Linked DNA regions of Homo sapiens. The protein of the gene in region 1 interacts with the protein of each later gene in a biochemical or structural test. Each region holds a gene or a part of one and is shown in the gene's direction. Other genes may lie near its edges.

What was found.
Region 2: the proteins of LATS1 (region 1) and MOB3A form a complex in vitro, tested with the Homo sapiens proteins (one study listed by BioGRID).
Region 3: of the proteins of LATS1 (region 1) and PPP1R12A, one has a biochemical effect on the other in vitro, tested with the Homo sapiens proteins (one study listed by BioGRID).
Region 4: of the proteins of LATS1 (region 1) and PPP6R3, one has a biochemical effect on the other in vitro, tested with the Homo sapiens proteins (one study listed by BioGRID).

Annotation. Positions count from the first base shown.
Region 1 is NC_000006.12:149,679,615-149,684,708, reverse strand, and holds part of LATS1 (serine/threonine-protein kinase LATS1), read left to right. Parts: intron 1-116; coding exon 117-1,630; coding exon of another isoform or gene 1,631-1,693; exon of another isoform or gene 1,694-1,795; intron 1,796-3,185; exon of another isoform or gene 3,186-3,248; intron 3,249-4,251; coding exon 4,252-4,834; coding exon of another isoform or gene 4,835-4,842; intron 4,843-5,094. UniProt on the Homo sapiens protein: Negative regulator of YAP1 in the Hippo signaling pathway that plays a pivotal role in organ size control and tumor suppression by restricting proliferation and promoting apoptosis.
Region 2 is NC_000019.10:2,088,668-2,093,761, reverse strand, and holds part of MOB3A (MOB kinase activator 3A), read left to right. Parts: intron 1-5,094. UniProt on the Homo sapiens protein: May regulate the activity of kinases.
Region 3 is NC_000012.12:79,794,439-79,799,532, reverse strand, and holds part of PPP1R12A (protein phosphatase 1 regulatory subunit 12A), read left to right. Parts: intron 1-948; coding exon 949-1,039; intron 1,040-2,137; coding exon 2,138-2,338; intron 2,339-2,582; coding exon 2,583-2,751; intron 2,752-3,773; coding exon 3,774-3,895; intron 3,896-5,094. UniProt on the Homo sapiens protein: Key regulator of protein phosphatase 1C (PPP1C). Mediates binding to myosin. As part of the PPP1C complex, involved in dephosphorylation of PLK1. Capable of inhibiting HIF1AN-dependent suppression of HIF1A activity.
Region 4 is NC_000011.10:68,599,817-68,604,910, forward strand, and holds part of PPP6R3 (serine/threonine-protein phosphatase 6 regulatory subunit 3), read left to right. Parts: intron 1-524; coding exon 525-678; intron 679-2,046; coding exon 2,047-2,153; intron 2,154-3,525; coding exon 3,526-3,676; intron 3,677-5,094.

The DNA of each region.
Region 1 (5,094 bases):
ATTCTTGAAAGAGAATTGAGTATCATTTGTAATATCAGAATTGCAAGCTAAGGTTTTCAAAAATTAGAGGTTAAAAACATGATTCTTTTTTCTCTTTATCTCTCTTATAACCATAGGGAATGTGCAGCAATCAGTTAACCGCAAACAGAGCTGGAAAGGTTCTAAAGAATCCTTAGTTCCTCAGAGGCATGGCCCGCCACTAGGAGAAAGTGTGGCCTATCATTCTGAGAGTCCCAACTCACAGACAGATGTAGGAAGACCTTTGTCTGGATCTGGTATATCAGCATTTGTTCAAGCTCACCCTAGCAACGGACAGAGAGTGAACCCCCCACCACCACCTCAAGTAAGGAGTGTTACTCCTCCACCACCTCCAAGAGGCCAGACTCCCCCTCCAAGAGGTACAACTCCACCTCCCCCTTCATGGGAACCAAACTCTCAAACAAAGCGCTATTCTGGAAACATGGAATACGTAATCTCCCGAATCTCTCCTGTCCCACCTGGGGCATGGCAAGAGGGCTATCCTCCACCACCTCTCAACACTTCCCCCATGAATCCTCCTAATCAAGGACAGAGAGGCATTAGTTCTGTTCCTGTTGGCAGACAACCAATCATCATGCAGAGTTCTAGCAAATTTAACTTTCCATCAGGGAGACCTGGAATGCAGAATGGTACTGGACAAACTGATTTCATGATACACCAAAATGTTGTCCCTGCTGGCACTGTGAATCGGCAGCCACCACCTCCATATCCTCTGACAGCAGCTAATGGACAAAGCCCTTCTGCTTTACAAACAGGGGGATCTGCTGCTCCTTCGTCATATACAAATGGAAGTATTCCTCAGTCTATGATGGTGCCAAACAGAAATAGTCATAACATGGAACTATATAACATTAGTGTACCTGGACTGCAAACAAATTGGCCTCAGTCATCTTCTGCTCCAGCCCAGTCATCCCCGAGCAGTGGGCATGAAATCCCTACATGGCAACCTAACATACCAGTGAGGTCAAATTCTTTTAATAACCCATTAGGAAATAGAGCAAGTCACTCTGCTAATTCTCAGCCTTCTGCTACAACAGTCACTGCAATTACACCAGCTCCTATTCAACAGCCTGTGAAAAGTATGCGTGTATTAAAACCAGAGCTACAGACTGCTTTAGCACCTACACACCCTTCTTGGATACCACAGCCAATTCAAACTGTTCAACCCAGTCCTTTTCCTGAGGGAACCGCTTCAAATGTGACTGTGATGCCACCTGTTGCTGAAGCTCCAAACTATCAAGGACCACCACCACCCTACCCAAAACATCTGCTGCACCAAAACCCATCTGTTCCTCCATACGAGTCAATCAGTAAGCCTAGCAAAGAGGATCAGCCAAGCTTGCCCAAGGAAGATGAGAGTGAAAAGAGTTATGAAAATGTTGATAGTGGGGATAAAGAAAAGAAACAGATTACAACTTCACCTATTACTGTTAGGAAAAACAAGAAAGATGAAGAGCGAAGGGAATCTCGTATTCAAAGTTATTCTCCTCAAGCATTTAAATTCTTTATGGAGCAACATGTAGAAAATGTACTCAAATCTCATCAGCAGCGTCTACATCGTAAAAAACAATTAGAGAATGAAATGATGCGGGTAAAACCTTTTAAAATGTCCATTTTTATACTTAATCATCTGTTTGCTTGGTGTTTATTTTAAAATATTGTGTCCAGTATTTTTCTTTCTTTTTATAGCTAAATAAAATATATTATCAGTTATGGAATTTAAAAGTGAATAAATATTAAAGTACTTTTGATTGTAGCATTTTATTTTAGTATTTCAATATTTATTCAGAATTTCCTATAATAAAATCTCGTGTAAATTAAGAAAAATATAATTTGCGGTATACAGTTTAGGTGTACATAATACCTTTATATGAAAATTGGAGGAAGGGTTGTCTTCTAGGCTTCATACAATATCTTACAACATTTAAAAATAAACTAGAAATATGTGGGTCTCAGGCTGGGGCATGGGGGCTCACGCCTGTAATCAAAGCACTTTGGAAGGCTGAGGCAGGCAGATCATGAGGTCAGGAGATCGAGACCATCCTGCCTAACACAGTGAAACCCCGTCTCTACTAAAAATACCAAAAAAAATTAGCTGGGCATGGTGGCGGGCGCCTGTAGTCCCAGCTACTTGGAAGGCTGAGGCAGGAGAATGGCGTGAACCCCGGAGGCGGAGGTTGCAGTGAGCCGAGATCGCGCCACTGCACTCCAGTGTGGGCGACAGTGAGACTCCGTCTCAAAAAAAAAAAAAAAAGAAAAAAGAAATACGTGGGTCTCATCTCTTGATATACTTATAAAACATTTACTTTTAGAAAATTTGGAGTTTATAGGTTTATTCATCACATATATCTTATTAAAAAGTGTAAAGAAGTTTCCTTCAGTTATATCTCCCTTCTCATTTCATTTTTATAATATACTGGAGAAAAATGTGCTAAAATTATTTAGTGAAACTATACTAAAAGGGAGATCAGAGTAAGTAAACACACTTTAATCTGTGTTGTCATTCCACATAGATCTCTAGATATTAAGGTAGTACGATCATCATTTTTTTTTTTTTTTGAGACGACATCTCACTCTGTCGCCAGGCTGGAGTGCAGTGGCGCCATCTCAGCTCACTGCAACCTCCGCCTCCCGGGTTCAAGCAGTTCTCCTGCCTCAGCCTCCCCACTAGCTGGGACTACAAGCGCCCGTCAGCACGCTGAGCTAATTTTTTATTTTTAGTAGAGGCGGGGTTTCACCATGTTGGCCAGGCCGGTCTTGATCTCTTGACGCCATGACCCACCCGCGTCTGCCTCCCAAAGCACTGGGATTACAGGCATGAGCCACTGTGCCTGGCCATTATTGTTTTTATCATATGCTTAGAGTTCAAAGATTTGACTCCTAATCTTACATCTGTCACTCACAATCCAAGAGGCTTAACCTTGTGATTAAACACCTTTATATACTTGAACCATTCTTTTAAAATGATTTTAATAAATCTGATTTTACAGTATTGTTATTTCTATTTTATATTTTATTAAATGAGAAATACCATAATAATTTCTATGACTTATCCATATTTTAATTCTTAGGATTTCTTACTAAAGTCTGCCTATGTGTATTTTCTTAGTTTATTTTTCCTTTTTCCTCTTCACTTTCACTAATAGCTGATTTAAACTTTTATGGTGTTGGAAGCTTTGCTGACTTCTGTAGTCTCCATTACTGTGTAGGCAAGTAAGATTTTAAGAGAAACAGTTCTGAACTAAGTCTGGCATGCCATCCTTCTTAAAAGATTTTGCATGCAAATGTGAATCCTAACAGAAGCATGTGGTTGTTCTATTTTAGTCTTGTATTTCTAGAATTAGACCCCACTTTTCCAACTGGATTTCTTTTCTATTTAAACCCTTTAATTAATTCTTTATTAATTAGCCAAAATGTTTCTCCCTTCTAAATCCAGGCATTCCATATCTATAATACTTAGAAGTTAGTTTTTGTTTTTAATCTATTTTTTGATATTTTCATGAGTCACACTGAAGTATTCCTAAGTATCCAAAGGATATCTTGTAAACAACCAGGTTGTTCTTTTCGAAGTAGGAGAAACCCTTTGCAATTTGTGTTAGTGGTAGACTGTGAGTCGCACCTTTACTCTGATGCCCTGAAAAATAGAAAAGGAAAGATTATTAATGACTGTTGTATATTTATTGAGAATAGGGAAAGGATTGGTGGGTTAGAAAAGGCATTGTTTTGTTGTTCTTTGGTACATTAATTTTTTAGAATAAATGAGCCTGGAGTGGAAGAATTTTTTTTCATGAAAGACAAAATAGGAAGAATATTTGAGGCCTAGGCATTCCACCAAGAGAAGCATATACAGAGAGATAAATGAATATGCATGTTAACATGTTAACAGATGTTTGTTGCACATTGAGAACCTTTTTTTTTTTTTTTTTCGGAGTGCATTAGAGAAGAGTAGAAAGCTTACTCATCTGGTACCCTCTTCTTGCACTCCACAGCTGAATTTGCATAGGTACTCACTTTGAATATCCTTTTAACTACCCCTTAGGCTGCACTTTTGATCATTAATTTCCTTTGAAATGTTTTCTAGATTTCTAACATGCTTTATTAAAAATTATGCATTTAACCTTTAAATATATGCCTGAATTTTTCCCAAGCTATTTCTTAATATTCAATATTGAAGAAGATAATTCTTATTTAACATCTAGTTTATTTGCCTAGGTTGGATTATCTCAAGATGCCCAGGATCAAATGAGAAAGATGCTTTGCCAAAAAGAATCTAATTACATCCGTCTTAAAAGGGCTAAAATGGACAAGTCTATGTTTGTGAAGATAAAGACACTAGGAATAGGAGCATTTGGTGAAGTCTGTCTAGCAAGAAAAGTAGATACTAAGGCTTTGTATGCAACAAAAACTCTTCGAAAGAAAGATGTTCTTCTTCGAAATCAAGTCGCTCATGTTAAGGCTGAGAGAGATATCCTGGCTGAAGCTGACAATGAATGGGTAGTTCGTCTATATTATTCATTCCAAGATAAGGACAATTTATACTTTGTAATGGACTACATTCCTGGGGGTGATATGATGAGCCTATTAATTAGAATGGGCATCTTTCCAGAAAGTCTGGCACGATTCTACATAGCAGAACTTACCTGTGCAGTTGAAAGTGTTCATAAAATGGGTTTTATTCATAGAGATATTAAACCTGATAATATTTTGATTGATCGTGATGGTCATATTAAATTGACTGACTTTGGCCTCTGCACTGGCTTCAGATGGACACACGATTCTAAGTACTATCAGAGTGGTAAGTAAACTCATAAAATTTATTTTAGTTTGTTCATAATAATGTAATTTATTGATGTAGTAAAATATAAGATGGTATCATCACTGGATGAGAGCCAGAAGATGTGGGTCAGGTCTTGATTCTGTTGGATAAACTTGGGTGACTCCATTAGGCACTTAGACTTATGAAATGAAAGAATGTGCTAGACTTGATTGTTTAGACTTATGAAATGAAAGAATGTGCTAGACTTGATTGTTTCTAAATATTATTAACATTTTTGA
Region 2 (5,094 bases), on another chromosome or scaffold:
TCCCAGCTCCCTCTCTTTCCACAGGTTGATTTTTCTCTTTTAACTCTGGAGCTGAGCTTACTACCTGTGGCTGTGGAGGCCTTGCAATGTGGCTGGTCCGAATTGGGATGTGCTGGCCAGGTGCGGGTGGCTCATACCTGTAATCCCAGCACTTTGGGAGGCCGAGGAGAGCAGATCACCTGAGGTCAGGCATTCAAGACCAGCCTGGCCAACATGGCAAAACCCCATCTCTACTAAATACACAGCCAGGCACACGCTGGACCACAGCCACCCACTGTGTGTTCCAGAGACTTCTCTGGGATTCCGAAAGGCAGAAGTGAAGGCCTCCTCCCAGAATCCCGTTTCTGAAGTCGGATTTGCCTTTTCAGCTTAAGCCATTTGACCTTCTAAATGCCAGGAAGACAGGAACAGAGCTCATCGGCTGAGGAATACAAAATTTACCCGGGCATGCTGGCGCGTGCCTGTAGTCCCAGCTACTCAGGAGGCTGAGGCAGGAGAATCACTTGAACCCGGGAGGCGGAGCTTGCAGTGAGCCAAGATCACGCCACTGCACTCCAGCCTGGGCAACAGAGTAAGACAACGTCTCGAAAAAAAAAAAAATTCCCTTCCAAGGAGGTATCCTCCCACCTTAGGGACCTGATGGTGGAGGTTTCAGAAAAATTCCCCACACAGCTGACTGAGCTTGGGGTTTTAAGGTGGGGAGTTTTAGACCTTCCCCAGCCGATGAGCTCTGTTCCTGTTTTCCTGGCATTTAGAAGGTCAAATGGCTTAAGCCGAAAAGGTAAATCCGACTTCAGAAACGGGATTCTGGGAGGAGGCCTTCACTTCTGCCTTTCGGAGTCCCAGAGAAGTCTCTGGAACACACAGTGGGTGGCTGTGGTCCAGCGTGTGCCTGGCTGCACACAAAAGAAAGCTGAACTTGGGTTTTCTTTCAGACTTTGACACAATACCTTCTGGGGACCATGCCTGGCCTCTTCCCTTTTCCTTTTTTTTTTTTTTTTTTTTTTTGAGATGGAGTTTCTCTTGCCCAGGCTGGAGTGCAGTGGCGCAACCAGGGCCCACTGCAGCCTCCGCCTCCTGAGCTCAAGAGATTCTCGTGCCTCAGCCTCCTGAGTAGCTGGGATTACAGGCATGCGCCACCACGCCCGGCTAATTTTTTGGTGTTTTAGTAGAGACTGGATTTCACCATGTTGCCCAGCTCAGGCAGTCTGCCTGCCTCAGCCTCCCAAAGTGCTGGGATTACAGGCGTAAGCCACCGCGCCTCACCCCCTTTTCCTTTTGAGTATATCAAAATGACTGTTTTTTTCCTTATATACCCAGACTGGGAAAAGTATGTCAGTTTACCACAAAGATTCACAGAGGGTCGGGCGCTATGGCTCATGCCTGTGATCCCAGCACTCTGGGAGGCCAAGGCAGAAGGATAGCTTGAACCCAGGAGTTTGAGACCAGCCTGGGCAACATAGTAAGACCCCATCTCTACCAAAAATACAAAAGTTAGCTGGGCGTGGTGGCGTGCACCTGTGGTCCCAGCTACTTGAGAGGCTGAGGTGGGAGGGTCATTTGAGCCCAGGAGGTTGAGGCTGCAGTGAGCCGTGATTGCACCACTGCACTCCAGCCTGGGGGATAGAGCGAAACCTCATCTCAAACAAACAGGCAGCTAAAAAAAAAAAAAAAAAAAACCTTTCCTTCCAGACACAATAGTTCCTTATTTTTTTTCATGGTTGTAGCAATTTATTATTCTTTCTTTCTCTTTTTTTTTTCTGTTACAGACAGAGTTTTGCTCGTCGCCCAGGCTGGAGTGCAGTGGCACAATCTCGGCTCACTGCAACCTCCGCCTCCCAGGTTCAAGCGATTCTCCTGTCTCAGCCTCCTGAATAGCTGGGATTACAGGCGCCCGCCACCACGCCTGGCTAATTTTTGTATTTTTAGTAGAGACAGGGTTTCACCATCTCGGCCAGGCCAGTCTCAAACTCCTGACCTTGTGATCCACCTGCCTTGGCCTCCCAAAGTGCTGGGATTACAGGCATGAGCCACCGCACCCCGGCTTTTATTCCTTCTTTAACAAAAAAGGTCTTAGAGCCTGGGCGCAGTAGCTCACGCCTGTAATCCCAGCACTTTGGGAGGCCGAGGTGGGTGGATCACTTGAGGTCAGGAGTTTGAGACCAGCCTGGCCAACATGGTGGAACCCCGTCTCTACCAAAAATACAAAAATTAGCTGGGCGTAGTGGCGGGCGCCTGTAATCCCAGCTACTTGGGAGGCTGAGGCAGGAGAATTGCTTGAGCCCGGGAGGCAGAGCTTGCAGTGAGCCGAGATTGCGCCACTGCACTCCAGCCTGGGTGACAGAGCAAGACTCGGTCTCCAAAAAAGAAAAAAAGGTCTGGGTATCCATACTGTTTTGCAACTTATTTTTTGCACTTATCGGATATTGGGTGTCCTTCCGTGTCAGAGCCTGTGTCTCATTCTTCTTAAAACTGTGTGGCCGGGCCGTCCTGGGTTACACAAGGATGAGAAGTCTCCTCTGGGTTGAGAGGTTTTGGCTCAAGTTTAAGGCTTTTCTTTCCAGCCAGATGGGCTTGGGAATGACTCTGCAGGAAGCGCGTGTTCCCCTGATCTGGCCAGCAGCCGGCACTGGAATCTTGGTTGTAGGGTTACTTACTGCAGGGGTCAGTTTCACGGAGGTTTCCCTCCCTTTTCTTCCCCACAGGTTGTGGGTTTTCTCTTAGGTCTTCTGGCTTTAATGCAGAGCTTTATATTCAGCTTATTAGTTTTAAAAGTGTGTTAAAATAATGCACGTATTTTGGCCGGGCGCGGTGGCTCACGCCTGTAATCCCAACACTTTGGGAGGCCAAGGTGGGCGGATCACGAGGTCAGGAGATCGAGACCATCCTGACTAACACGGTGAAACCCCGTCTCTACTAAAAATTCAAAAATTAGCTGAGCACGGTTGCAGGCAGCTGTAATCCCAGCTACTCGGGAGGCTGAGGCAGGAGAATGGCGTGAACCCAGTAGGCGGAGGTTGCAGTGAGACGAGATCGCGCCACTGCACTCCAGCCTGGGCAACAGAGCGAGACTCCGTCTTAAAAAAAAAAATAACGTATTTGTATCATTGCTATGTTTAATGTCGTATTTCATTGACCATAAGTCCCACAGGGAAGGAGGAAGTTGTTACTTCCTGTGTGGGGCTGGGGCCAGGGTCTCCCCCTGGGTATTGAGTCATTCTCTGGGGTGGAGTGTCCTGGGCACTGCAGGGTGCTGAGTAGCGTTCCTGGCCTCCACCCACTCCATGCCAGGAGTTCCCCCAAAACCTGACAACCACAGATGTCCCCAGACATCGTCCGGTGTTGAGGGGCAGAATCTTCACCGTGTTCAGGCCTGTGGGGGCAGGGGGCAGGGTGGTCTATCCCTGACTCAGCCCGCCAACATCCTCTGGGCCACGAGGCAAATGAGAAGAAAAAGGAAGTGGTCGGGGGTGTGAGCCACTCCAAGCACAGACAATTCCCACCGGGGACAAAGGGATGGGCTGAGCTGGGACACCTGGGTGGGGAGTCGCACCCTACGTGCCCTGGAGAACCAAGGCAGCCTGAGTCACCATGCCAGCTCTGCCGGGCTGCAGATGCTGGTTTCAGAAGCGCCTGGCAGCTGCGGAGCTCTGGGGATGCGGACTTGGCTGGGCTAAGATGGATCGGGTATCGGGGCCCCCAGAATCCCCTCAGTGGAGTCCCTGGTAGATTAGATCAGAGGGGAAGCTGCCAATCTAGCTGAGGTCTTGCCCCAGGGCAGTTTTGCCCCCAGGGGACTTGGAAATACGGGGCAGTGCGGGGGGTGCATTTGTGTTTGTCACAACTAGAGGAGGGGCTGCCCCTGGCATGGAGTGGGTGGAGGCCAGGGACATTGCTCAGCACCTGCAGTGCCCAGGACAAACTCACCCAGAGAAGGATCCAGCCCTGAATGCCAAGTGGGGGACTGCATTAGTTATTTGGGAAAAAAAAATCAAGTCTGCTCCCTGCTCACACCAGACACCAGAATAAACTCCCAATATGGCAGACGGTGTAAACCAGGGGACCTCAGCTCCTGGGATTCTCTTCCTCTCCCCCTCTGTGGATTTCAATGTGTGTAGCCTCCTGGGACCTCAGCAGAGCAGAGGATCATGGGCCACGGAGTCTCTTGGGGGTCCGTGGAATCCCCTAACCCAAGAGGTGTCAATTGAGGGTAATTCTGCCCCCAGGGGACACTGGGCCAAGTCTGGGACATTTGTGTTTTTCTCATGACTGGGGGTGCTCCTGGCATGGAGTGGGTGGAGGCCAGGGACGCTGCTCAGCACCCTGCAGTGCCCAGGATGGCCCCTCCCCAGAGAGTGACCCACGCCGATGTCCACAGTGCAGAGAGTGGAAACGCTGCCCTAGTGGCAGACGCAGCAGATTCAGAATTGAAGGATCTGAGTTCAAGCCCAGACTTGTACCTTTTACCTCCCACCCTCAGGCGAGGCAACTGGCCTCAGCTTCTGGACGTGCAGCACGGGTGAGCCCCTCCCGCCAGCCAGGAAATGATGAGTTTCACGAGAGCAGGTCCTCCAGGGCCCCAGCAAATGCCAGGCCTGTTTACTAATGACAGCAAAGGTCCACCATCACTTAGCAGGAATGAGAGCATTCGCTTTCAGCCTGCCCTGCCAGCCTCACAGGGCTGCGGCATGAACCCCTGTAGGGTTAGTTTATGAGTGCGTAGGGAAGTGCTCCCCAGAAAGCAGGAGAAACACGGATGGCCAGATACACGTTTGAGCCTCTGACAACTACAGTCACTGTGTACTAACTAGTGGTGAGGTTGGCAATTTGTAAAAATTACTCATTAAAGAGGGAGACAGAGCCAGGCTCCGTGGCTCATGTCTATAATCCCAGCACTTTGGGAGGCCAAGGTGGGAGGACTGCTCGAGGTCAGGAGTTTAAGACCAGCCTGGACAACATAGCAAGACCCCCGTCTCTACAAAAAATACAAAAATTGCCGGGTGTGGTGGCTCATGCCTGTAATCCCAGCACTTTGGGAGGTCGAGGCGGGCGGATCATGAGGTCAGGAGTTGGAGACCAGCCTGGCCAATATGG
Region 3 (5,094 bases), on another chromosome or scaffold:
TTTTTTAGAGCACTCAAAAGTATGAACAATAATATGTTGTCTGACGTGTCATTAGTAAGAGCACACTGACAAGAATGCAGGGAGACCGGGCGCGGTGGCCCACGCCTTTAATCCCAACACCCTCTGAGGTCGAGACAGGCAGATCACTTGAGGTCAGGAGTTCGAGACCAGCCTGGCCAACATGGATGAAACCCCATCTCCACTAAAAATAAAAAAATTAGTCGGGCGTGGTGGTATGTGCAGGTAGTCCCAGCTACTCAGGAGGCTGAGGTGAGAGAATCACTTGAACCCGGGAGGCAGAGGTTACAGTGAGCTGAGATCGCGCCACTGCACTCCAGCCTGGGCGACAGAGCGAGACTTTGTCTCAAAAAAAAACAAAACAAACAAAAAAAAGATTTAGAAAGGAATTTGATACCTGTCTTCCAATATTTGAAAATACTGTAGGTAGAGAATAATTTAAAACCCCTTTTAGTAGGTCATTAAGTAAGATGCTTAGATTATCACTTTTGGGGGATGTTTTCAGGGCTGGAGAAGAGGACCTTCCTCAGTTAAAAACAGACAAAAAATTTACTCCTTATCCATTCTGCTTAATTGGGCTAAATGAAATCCTTCTATTTTTTTCAATAGAGCTAAAATTTTTAATCTTCAGTTCTCTAAATCCTTTTTAAAAATGTGGTTCCATCTTAAAATTAAATTACATTATTTTAAAAAATGTAGTTAGGAAGTTAAAATGTGATGTTAAAATATAATTATTAAAATATAACTAGTTCCAATCTAAAAAGAAATTATAAGATTGCATTATTGAATTTCAAAGACCATTTTCTGAAGACTTTTCCTTAAAACTTACTAAGATATTAAACCTGTATGTTTTATTCATATGCATTGATAGATATTTACATTCACAGGTATTGTATTTACAACTAACGATTTTTCAATTTACTACTGTAGATCATACCTCACTCCTGTTAGGGATGAAGAGTCTGAATCCCAAAGAAAAGCAAGATCTAGACAAGCAAGACAATCTAGAAGATCAACACAGGTATAGTTAATGTAATTAATATATAAAACTTACATAAGTAGCATATAAAATATATATACACACACTGACATAAAACAAGTTACCTTTCTCTTTTTCACTTTGTTGTGAAAATATTGATGTCAGTATATAGTGTGAGTAAATCCTTAAAAGGTAAAGGTTGCTGTAGTTATTCTAGTAATTCTAGTGTGAATAAATCCTTAAAAGGTAAAGGTTGCTCATAGCCTTTTGTATGGTTACACTGCTACTATTGTATTTCATCTAATTAGCATATGCCTTTGTGTCTTTTTGAGTATTTTTTAAATCCTTATTCCTAATACAGTGTCTGGCCCAGAGTATTTGGTTAGAATAAATTAATCATATGATGTCTAATAAGTATTTAAAAGTTCTATGAATATTTGGAAATCGGGGGCAGAGAATAGGCTCGTATATTAGGTATAAACAACTAATATGCAAGTATGAAGAAAATGTCATTCAGGCTGGCGATCTCCTTACCTCCGTTTTGCCATTCTGATTATGCTGTATATGATGTATACTTTTGTGTCTTTCTGCTTTCCCACAGTTAAGAAGCTCCACAGTCCAGATTCAGCTGTCTATCCTTACCATTACTTAGCTTTCAAGCTGAACTATTTGCTAGGGCCTTAATATACTTTTTCTGTCTTTATACTTTTCACTTCTTGAAATCTAACCTGTTCTTCAAGGTCAAATCTTGAAAAATTTATCGAAATCTCTTTTAAGCCTTAACAATCATCATGCATGTGTATATAGATACATATACACACATATATATACACACACACAGACATATATATAAACATAAATATTTATAATATACAAACAGTACAGATACTGGCTATTCTTCTCTAGTTTGAACTTGTGGGGAACATTTATATGCATAGAGTATCCAGTACCTATCGTTGTGCTTGCTAATGGTGATTCTTCATAGAATGAATGTAACTTGCTGTTTCCATTTGCAAACCAATTTTAAACATGCATATTTGACTTTTAATGCATTTGTATGTAATATATCTATTTCTAAAATATTCCTTGAAACAAGCTTTAATGCATCTCATAATTATATTGATCTTTTTGTGTGTGCAGGGAGTGACATTAACTGATCTTCAAGAAGCTGAGAAAACAATAGGAAGAAGTCGTTCTACCCGAACCAGAGAACAAGAAAATGAAGAAAAAGAAAAAGAGGAAAAAGAGAAACAAGATAAAGAGAAACAAGAAGAAAAGAAGGAGTCAGAAACATCTAGAGAAGATGAATATAAACAAAAGTACTCCAGAACGTATGATGAGGTAACAGTATATCAAAAGCACATTTAAGTCAAATGGTATGAATAGTCCTTATGATCCTTAACATACAAGAGATTTATATACCAACAAACCATATGCAAAATACTGTAAAGGATTTTAGCTGGAAATTTGAATTACTTTGGCGTGATTAGTATACTACTTTTTCTTTGAAATGAATTTTTAAGTATTTTTATGTTTTTAATTGTGTTTAATGTTTCAAATGGGTTTTGATCTTAATGTTTCACAGACTTACCAGCGTTATAGGCCAGTATCAACTTCAAGTTCAACCACTCCATCCTCTTCACTTTCTACTATGAGCAGTTCACTGTATGCTTCAAGTCAACTAAACAGGCCAAATAGTCTTGTAGGCATAACTTCTGCTTACTCCAGAGGAATAACAAAAGAAAATGAAAGAGGTAAGAATACCAAATTTTGAAAACACTTTGCTTTCTTCATATAATCCTTTGGATTAGGGTTTCCTAAATAATAATTCAACAGTAAAGGAACAGCATCCTAACTTGTGATTCATCGAACCTAAACAGAAAGAATATGAAGGTTGAGAATGAGAAAAGTAGAAAACAGAAATAGAATATGGCCTGCTGTTGATACTAATATTTTTATAACCTAATACTTCACAAAAATCTTCATGTCCACCTACAACGAAAAGTTAATATCGAACTGGTGGGTGACTATTTCTAGAAGCAGTTTACTAGTGTAGTACTTCTCAGATGCTTTAAGCTATTTCTTGCCTACTGTGTAGATCATATCATTTAAATGTTTTTTTGTGAAATTGTTGTAAACTAAAATTACTAACTACATGTAATGCTCTCACTAAAACACATTTTTATGCTTATTTCTTAAAAAATACATTTCTTTCTCAACTATATATTGGCATATTGATACTCATTACCATTTCCTATTATTTTATATAAACTTTCTATTTAAATTCTGAGTAATTCCTACTTTAAATCAGATATAAGTACTAAATATAGGCATTTCATATTTTAAAGCCTAAATCTTACAGTATTAGTCATGATAATATCAGTAGTAATGTAGAATAAACAGCAGAAAATAAAGTTTTTTCCCAATTTCCAGCTATATATTTTCTCATGTTGATCATTGAGATGTTTCAGTTCTTTAAACTTCTATGTGTGAGGCCTGCATTGTGTTTGTAAAAATGTTGAACCAACATTTAAAATTAGAGATACTCACTTCAAACTTCAGATTTTTGCCATTTCTTGAAAAGTTGGCTGACCTGGCAACACTGGATCTGAATTCTCACATACCAACAATTGGCTGGAGCTAAGTAGTAGCAGCTGCCTACCTTCCATCCCCCTAGATAGTCCCCTGGCCCATTTTACCCATTGTTTTTACAATTACCTTGCAAAATATTGTCAAGATATATTGCTATATTGTGGTTCATTGCAATCCTTAACAGAGGGAGAAAAAAGAGAAGAGGAGAAAGAAGGAGAAGATAAATCACAACCTAAATCAATCAGAGAACGACGACGACCAAGAGAGAAAAGAAGATCTACAGGAGTTTCATTTTGGACACAAGATGTGAGAACCTATTAAAATACATTATTTGATAGTATTCTTGATAGTATTCTTAATGTGTCCAAAAATACATACTAATAATTTCTTATATGCCTTAGATTTCATATTCCTTAAATCATCACTGTGTTTTCTGAGTTGTTAAATAAGAAAAATTATTTTTAAGGATAGTTAACTACTTAGATTGTTGGTACTACTTAAAAGGAGTGGTTCTGACCTAATTATGGAATAGAAATAATAATGTCTGAAGCTCAGAGTGCATGTATTGATTATTTTATAATAGGTAAACTGCTTCTTGTAAAAACATCTTTTAAGAATTTCTAAGGAGTCTATTTAATTTCATTTTCATAAATATCATTATAAGATCTACATTACAGATTACTTCCATCTCAAAGCATGCTAAATAGACACAGTGCTTTGCTTATCAAATTACAACAGTCTTGTAAAAATTAGTGTTTTCCTGGTCCTTGATTGTAGGCCTGACATTGCTATTCATTGATTTTGTTTCCATTTTCTAAAAAATAAACCTTTTATTGAAGTATGGCATGTTTAGAAACATAATTCATACATGTATAGCTTAATGGATTAGCACAATAGGAGCATATCTATGTAATCACCACTCAGAATGATGAATAAAAACAGCAGTGTAGATTGCCCCCATGTTCTCCCTCTCAATCCCTATCATCCTCATTTTCAAAGTCAGCTAGTATCCTGATTTCTAACACCGTAGTTAACTATGCCTGTTTTTGAAGAGCATATGACTAGAACTATAAATTTTATAACTGTTATGTTTATAAGATATATCTATGCTATTTTATGTAGCAGTACATTTACTTCTATTGTTATAAAAATATTTTTTAAAGAAAATTTCTAACTATTCTTTCACTGAAAGAACATGGAATCATCTGTCTTCCTGTTAAACTGACCCATCTCTCACTATATGTTCCTCTTTATCTCTAATATTATATCTGACCTTAAATTCTGCTTTTTTGAAAAGCTTCCTTTTGATTATCTTTGTATAATATATCTTTTCTGTTATTTTCAATTTATTTGTGTTTTTTTTAATAAACAACATATTTAGGTCAACTTTTTTCTGAACTTTTTTTTAATTGCAGTGTTTCAGTCCATTTTAATTTTACTTAATTACTAATTACTTAATTACATGAAACAAATAACATTGTCATTTGCAGTTTAAAATATATAAA
Region 4 (5,094 bases), on another chromosome or scaffold:
CAGTTGTTAGAAATGGGAGGTTTGAGGCCAGGCGCGGTGGCTCACGCCTGTAATCCCAGCACTTTGGGAGGCCAAGGCGGGCGGTTCACGAGGTCGGGATATTGAGACCATCCTGGCTAACACAGTGAAACCTGTCTCTACTAAAAATACAAAAAATTAGCCAGGCGTGATGGCGGGTGCCAGTAATCCCAGCTACTCAGGAGGCTGAGGCAGGAGAATGGCGTGAACCCGGGAGGCGGAGCTTGCAGTGAGCGGAGATCGTGCCACTGCACTCCAGCCTGGGCGACAGAGCGAGACTCCATCTCAAAAAAATAATAATAAAAAGAAATGGGAGGTTTGAGAATGTGGGATCATTGTTAGAGTGCCCTCCAGGTGGCTGTGCCCTGTCCGCTCCTGCCCTCATTGGTGAGAGTGTCTTTCTCCCACAGCTCCAGTCTCTTTTGCTAATGTGTTTTTGATAAATACCTTGTGGTACATGAAACGACTGAAGTGTTTTCCAAATAGAATTTCTCCCCTCTTTTTAGCACCCAACTGGTCAGCTAACTTTGATGTCCCAATGGAAACAACCCACGGTGCTCCATTGGATTCTGTGGGATCTGATGTCTGGAGCACAGAGGAGCCGATGCCAACTAAAGAGACGGGCTGGGCTTCTTTTTCAGAGTTCACGTCTTCCCTGAGGTGAGCGAACATGTGCTGTCTCTACACCCTTCCACGGGGGACCTGGGAATGGTCAGGTGTTTGCTGTTAACGTGTGTTCTTCACCTTGACTGACTTCCAAGTTGAATATACTGCCCTGAAAAAGATTAAACATCAGCATACTAACACAGCTCTGTGTTGTAAGAAGAACAATCACCATCTTCCTTTCCTTTCCTCCTGGATTAATTGGAAATGGGAGTAGTTCTTGAACAAAGTAGCTTGTGAGGATGCGGTCCCAGGGAGTTAGCAGGACGCAGCAGAAGATGCATCTCCGTGAGCTTTTCTGGCTTCATAGAGCTGTCAGGACAGAATTGAGGAGAAGAGGAATGAGGTGAAGCCAAGAAATCCTGACAGGCACAGCACCTCTGTGTGGGGTGTGGCAGGCAAACAAAATGGATCTTGAATTCAGTAGATAATATGAACTTACAGTTCACTTGCAGCTAGTCCAGTGCTGTCAATTAAGGGCTCCCAATCATTGGTAACTCGGAAGATAGGAAGACAAGCTGTTTTGGGCTGACAGTTAGTGTCTTAGACAAACCAAAGAATAGGCTGAAACCCATGTTGCTTTGTAGTAACCATAGTAATAGCATTAAGTTACTACTCAGAGGTACAAGTGAGATTTGTGAAAAATGTCTCCAAAATAATGAGTTATTTCGTCTACCCCGCTTTTCAGTACAGGACATACATTTCCGCCTACTCCTTTTTTTGGTCTGTTTATAACCCGAGGATAAGAGCCTTTGGTTACTTGAGGGTGTGATTGAAGCAGCTTGCTTCTCTTTACCCTCTGTGTGCACGTCTCTGAGTTTGTGGGAATGAGGGATAAAAGAGGAAGTGTAATGATCTCCCTCACCCCTACCCCTTACTGCTCAGGCATTTGGTGTTTTTTTACTATGTTTCCACAGTTCCAACAACAAATATCATTAAGAGGGCCAGTCTCTCCCAGGCAGTGTGGCTGAAAATAAGTAAAGGTTTTTGTAAAACCAGTCAACCTGATAAATACCGTTGCCATTGCACAATGTACGTCTTTGCTGTTCAAGCTCTGGGAGCCTCCTAGTGACTATGGTGGGATGAGAAGTTGGGACATGATGAGCCTGTCTAGAATGCTTTACAAAGTCCCTGTCTTACTGCCTTGCTGGCTTAACAGAACATTTGCCTGCCCGCACTCATGTCCTTCTTCAAACAGCTACTGGCACTTAGATCCATGTGTCACTGGAGTTTGTAACCCAGTGACTCTTACACAGATGCTAATGTCTCCTAACAAAAACTTACTTGTAAAGGCTTATTGTGAATCTTGGGGTAACTGAGGACCATTCCCTGCTGCTAATATCTGAATTTTCTCTTTTTTGAAAGCACAAAAGATTCTTTAAGGAGTAATTCTCCAGTGGAAATGGAAACCAGCACTGAACCCATGGACCCTCTGACTCCCAGTGCGGCTGCCCTGGCAGTGCAGCCAGAAGGTGCGTGCAGAGAGGCCTGGGTACACGCCAGGGTCACGTGGCTGCTTTGTCAAACCAGACCTGATTCTCAGGCTCAGGGGCTAGTGGAGCCCGGGAGTGAGATGGTGGGTCTGATGTCCACAGGGCAGCTGATGAAAGAAATTGTGCCTGTCCTTCTAGAACCACAGCATGCTGACTCTGGAAAGAGTAAGGGCTCTAAGTTACCAGGCATGCAGTGTGCAGATTAGGAAACTGAGGTCTAGAGGGAAGAAGGCCTAAGCCCATAGTACCCAGGGTGAATAAAACTGGAATTAGACGTGTGCAGCCAAGCCTGTGTGTAGTTGTCCCTTGGAGTTTGCTTTGCTCAAGCATGTAGGTGTATCTGGGTTTGTTTAGAGCTATGGGGCTGGTTATTTTCACTTCGCCATTGTAAGCAGATTGAATAGTCCTGGGAATCTCTAAAGTTCCAGTGGGTTTTCCTATTACTCTACCTAGTCAAATGTGTTCCTTGCACGGCCCTGAACTGTTTTCACCTTGATGGACGGGGCTTTGGGAGGAGGGGGATGCTAGCAAAGGGAGTGTGATGGGAACCAAAAGGATGTGGAGGGCACGAATCATGAGGTGGGCTTAAGGAGTGAGTTCTTAGAAAATGAAATGAGGTTTTGGTAGAGGGTGTGAGAACCCTCCTTCCCAGGGGCAAGGGAAAGGAATAAAACCAATAACTAATGCTGGTTTCATCATCCTCCTGAACATTTGATACAGATTCCCGCATTTGACTCCTCAGTGGTTCTGTAAGTGGGTGCACTGATCCCCTTTCCTGGATGAGGAAACTCAGGTTATAGATGAGGTTCCTTGTCCAAGTAGTCTACAGCTAGGAAGTGGTGATGTCGATGTTTGAATCCAGGAAGCCTCACCTCAGCCAGGCTCATCACCTATGTTGGCTTCCCATTAGAGAACAAAGAAACGATCCACCAGCAACACCACAAGAAAGTAATTTTTAAAACAAAGCAAAGCAAATAGAGCCCAACTGAGGAAAACAAGTGAGTAGAGGGTAGAGTGTGTAACTGCCTGCTCTGCCCCACACTGGAACAGTTAGGAGCACAAGTGTCTGCTGGGAGAAGCTGGGTATGGAGGTGGACGCTGAGCTGGGAGGGATGTAGGCGACTTGCTAGTCTCTAGTAAAGAAAACCCATGAAACCCCTCTTTAGTGGGCATCTTTAAGAAGTCTCTCCCCATCAAGAATGTGGCCCAGACAACAGCAGGCAGAAGCCATCTCACTCTTTTTTTTCTTCAAGCAGTAGATGTCACGTTGGGTAGATGGGTTTGTACAGTGGTGGGGTGCCAGTTCCTTTTCGGGCTTGCTGTGTGTGACCATCAGCTGTGTTCTTTTCAGCGGCAGGCAGTGTGGCCATGGAAGCCAGCTCTGACGGAGAGGAGGATGCAGAAAGTACAGACAAGGTAACTGAGACAGTGATGAATGGCGGCATGAAGGAAACGCTCAGCCTCACTGTAGATGCCAAGACAGAGACTGCGGTCTTCAAAAGGTAACCAGGGGTGAGATCCTGCTGGTAGCTTCAGGTTATTGGGAGGATGGTGGGGCAGAAACCTCAAACATTAAAATTTTTAATTTGATTCAAATGAATGTTCAGATACTAGCTTGATGTCTTTCTGTTGTCTCCATTAAACACAATAAATCTTAATGAAGAGATGGAGAGTTTAGGCCCCTAAGTGCCTTTTCCCCCATAAATGTGTTCAGAAGACTGTATTTTACATCTAGCAGTTTGATAGAACTATGAGAATTGATAAATCTTTAATCACAATAGAAATTGGCTTGTGTAACAGGCTACAGAGCATGGCCCATGAAAACCGGTTTCAGGTCGACTGGTTTTACAAAAACCTTTACTTATTTTCAGTAACATACAGATGATTATCTCAGGACATAATGCAGTCATGAAAATTCAGTAGCAAAATGATAGCTTTAAAAGAACGTGACCCTTAGAAATTCACTTCTAAACTCAAAAAAGGAATTGTAATGGATATTAAAAACCTAAAACTGAGAGAATAATGGGAAAAATGTCTGTCAAAACTTAAGGACTGAAGCTAAGCCTGTGCTTAGAGCTTTAGTCTTAGAGACCATTCCAGCCATTACAAGAAGGAATGCCTCCCTGCTTATTGCGAGGTCACTACAAAACAAGGAGTGAAAGAAGAAAACTGACTGTAGACTGATTTCATACATGAGCAATTATTCTCAAAACTTAAGTTAAAAGCTAGCAAACCAAATGTAGCAATGTATTTTAAAGTCATGACCAAGGATATGTGCTCCAGTGACACAATGTAAACACCAGTGTGTACATGGTAAAAATTATTCAGAGTAATTCCCAGACAAAAGGAGAAAAGCATTTGATTACAAATTAAAGCTGTTCATGATTTTCTTTGCAGCCTAGGAATAGAAAGTAAATAGGTGAAACTGGTAAGTATCTCTAGAAAATCTAGAGTAGACTTGATTCTTCAGTGAGGCATTAGAAGTATTCCCTTTAAAGACAAGAACCAGAAAGTGGGACCTACAGTTGCTATTTGTCTTCAGCACTGTGCTGGTGGCCTTAGCAAATGCAGCATTCCAAATAAATAAATAGTCGCTGTTGATAGGCTATGATTTATACATAAAAATTCCAATGGAATCTGTAGATAAGGATTAATAGAAAAGTTTAGCAGGTTTACTGGAGACATACAAAATCACTTGCATCCTATAAATCAATATAAGATATTCCAAATGTGCCTGTTTTTAATAAAAATGTAAAACCTTATCTATAACTAGGAATATGACCTTTATGGGAAAACAGTTTAAAATCTCATGGAATATATTGAAGACCTGAATATAAATACCAAGATTTGCCATGTTTATCAATGTGAAGATATTTTTAGCATTTCTGAACAAGTTAGTCTATGAAATTAATGAAATTTC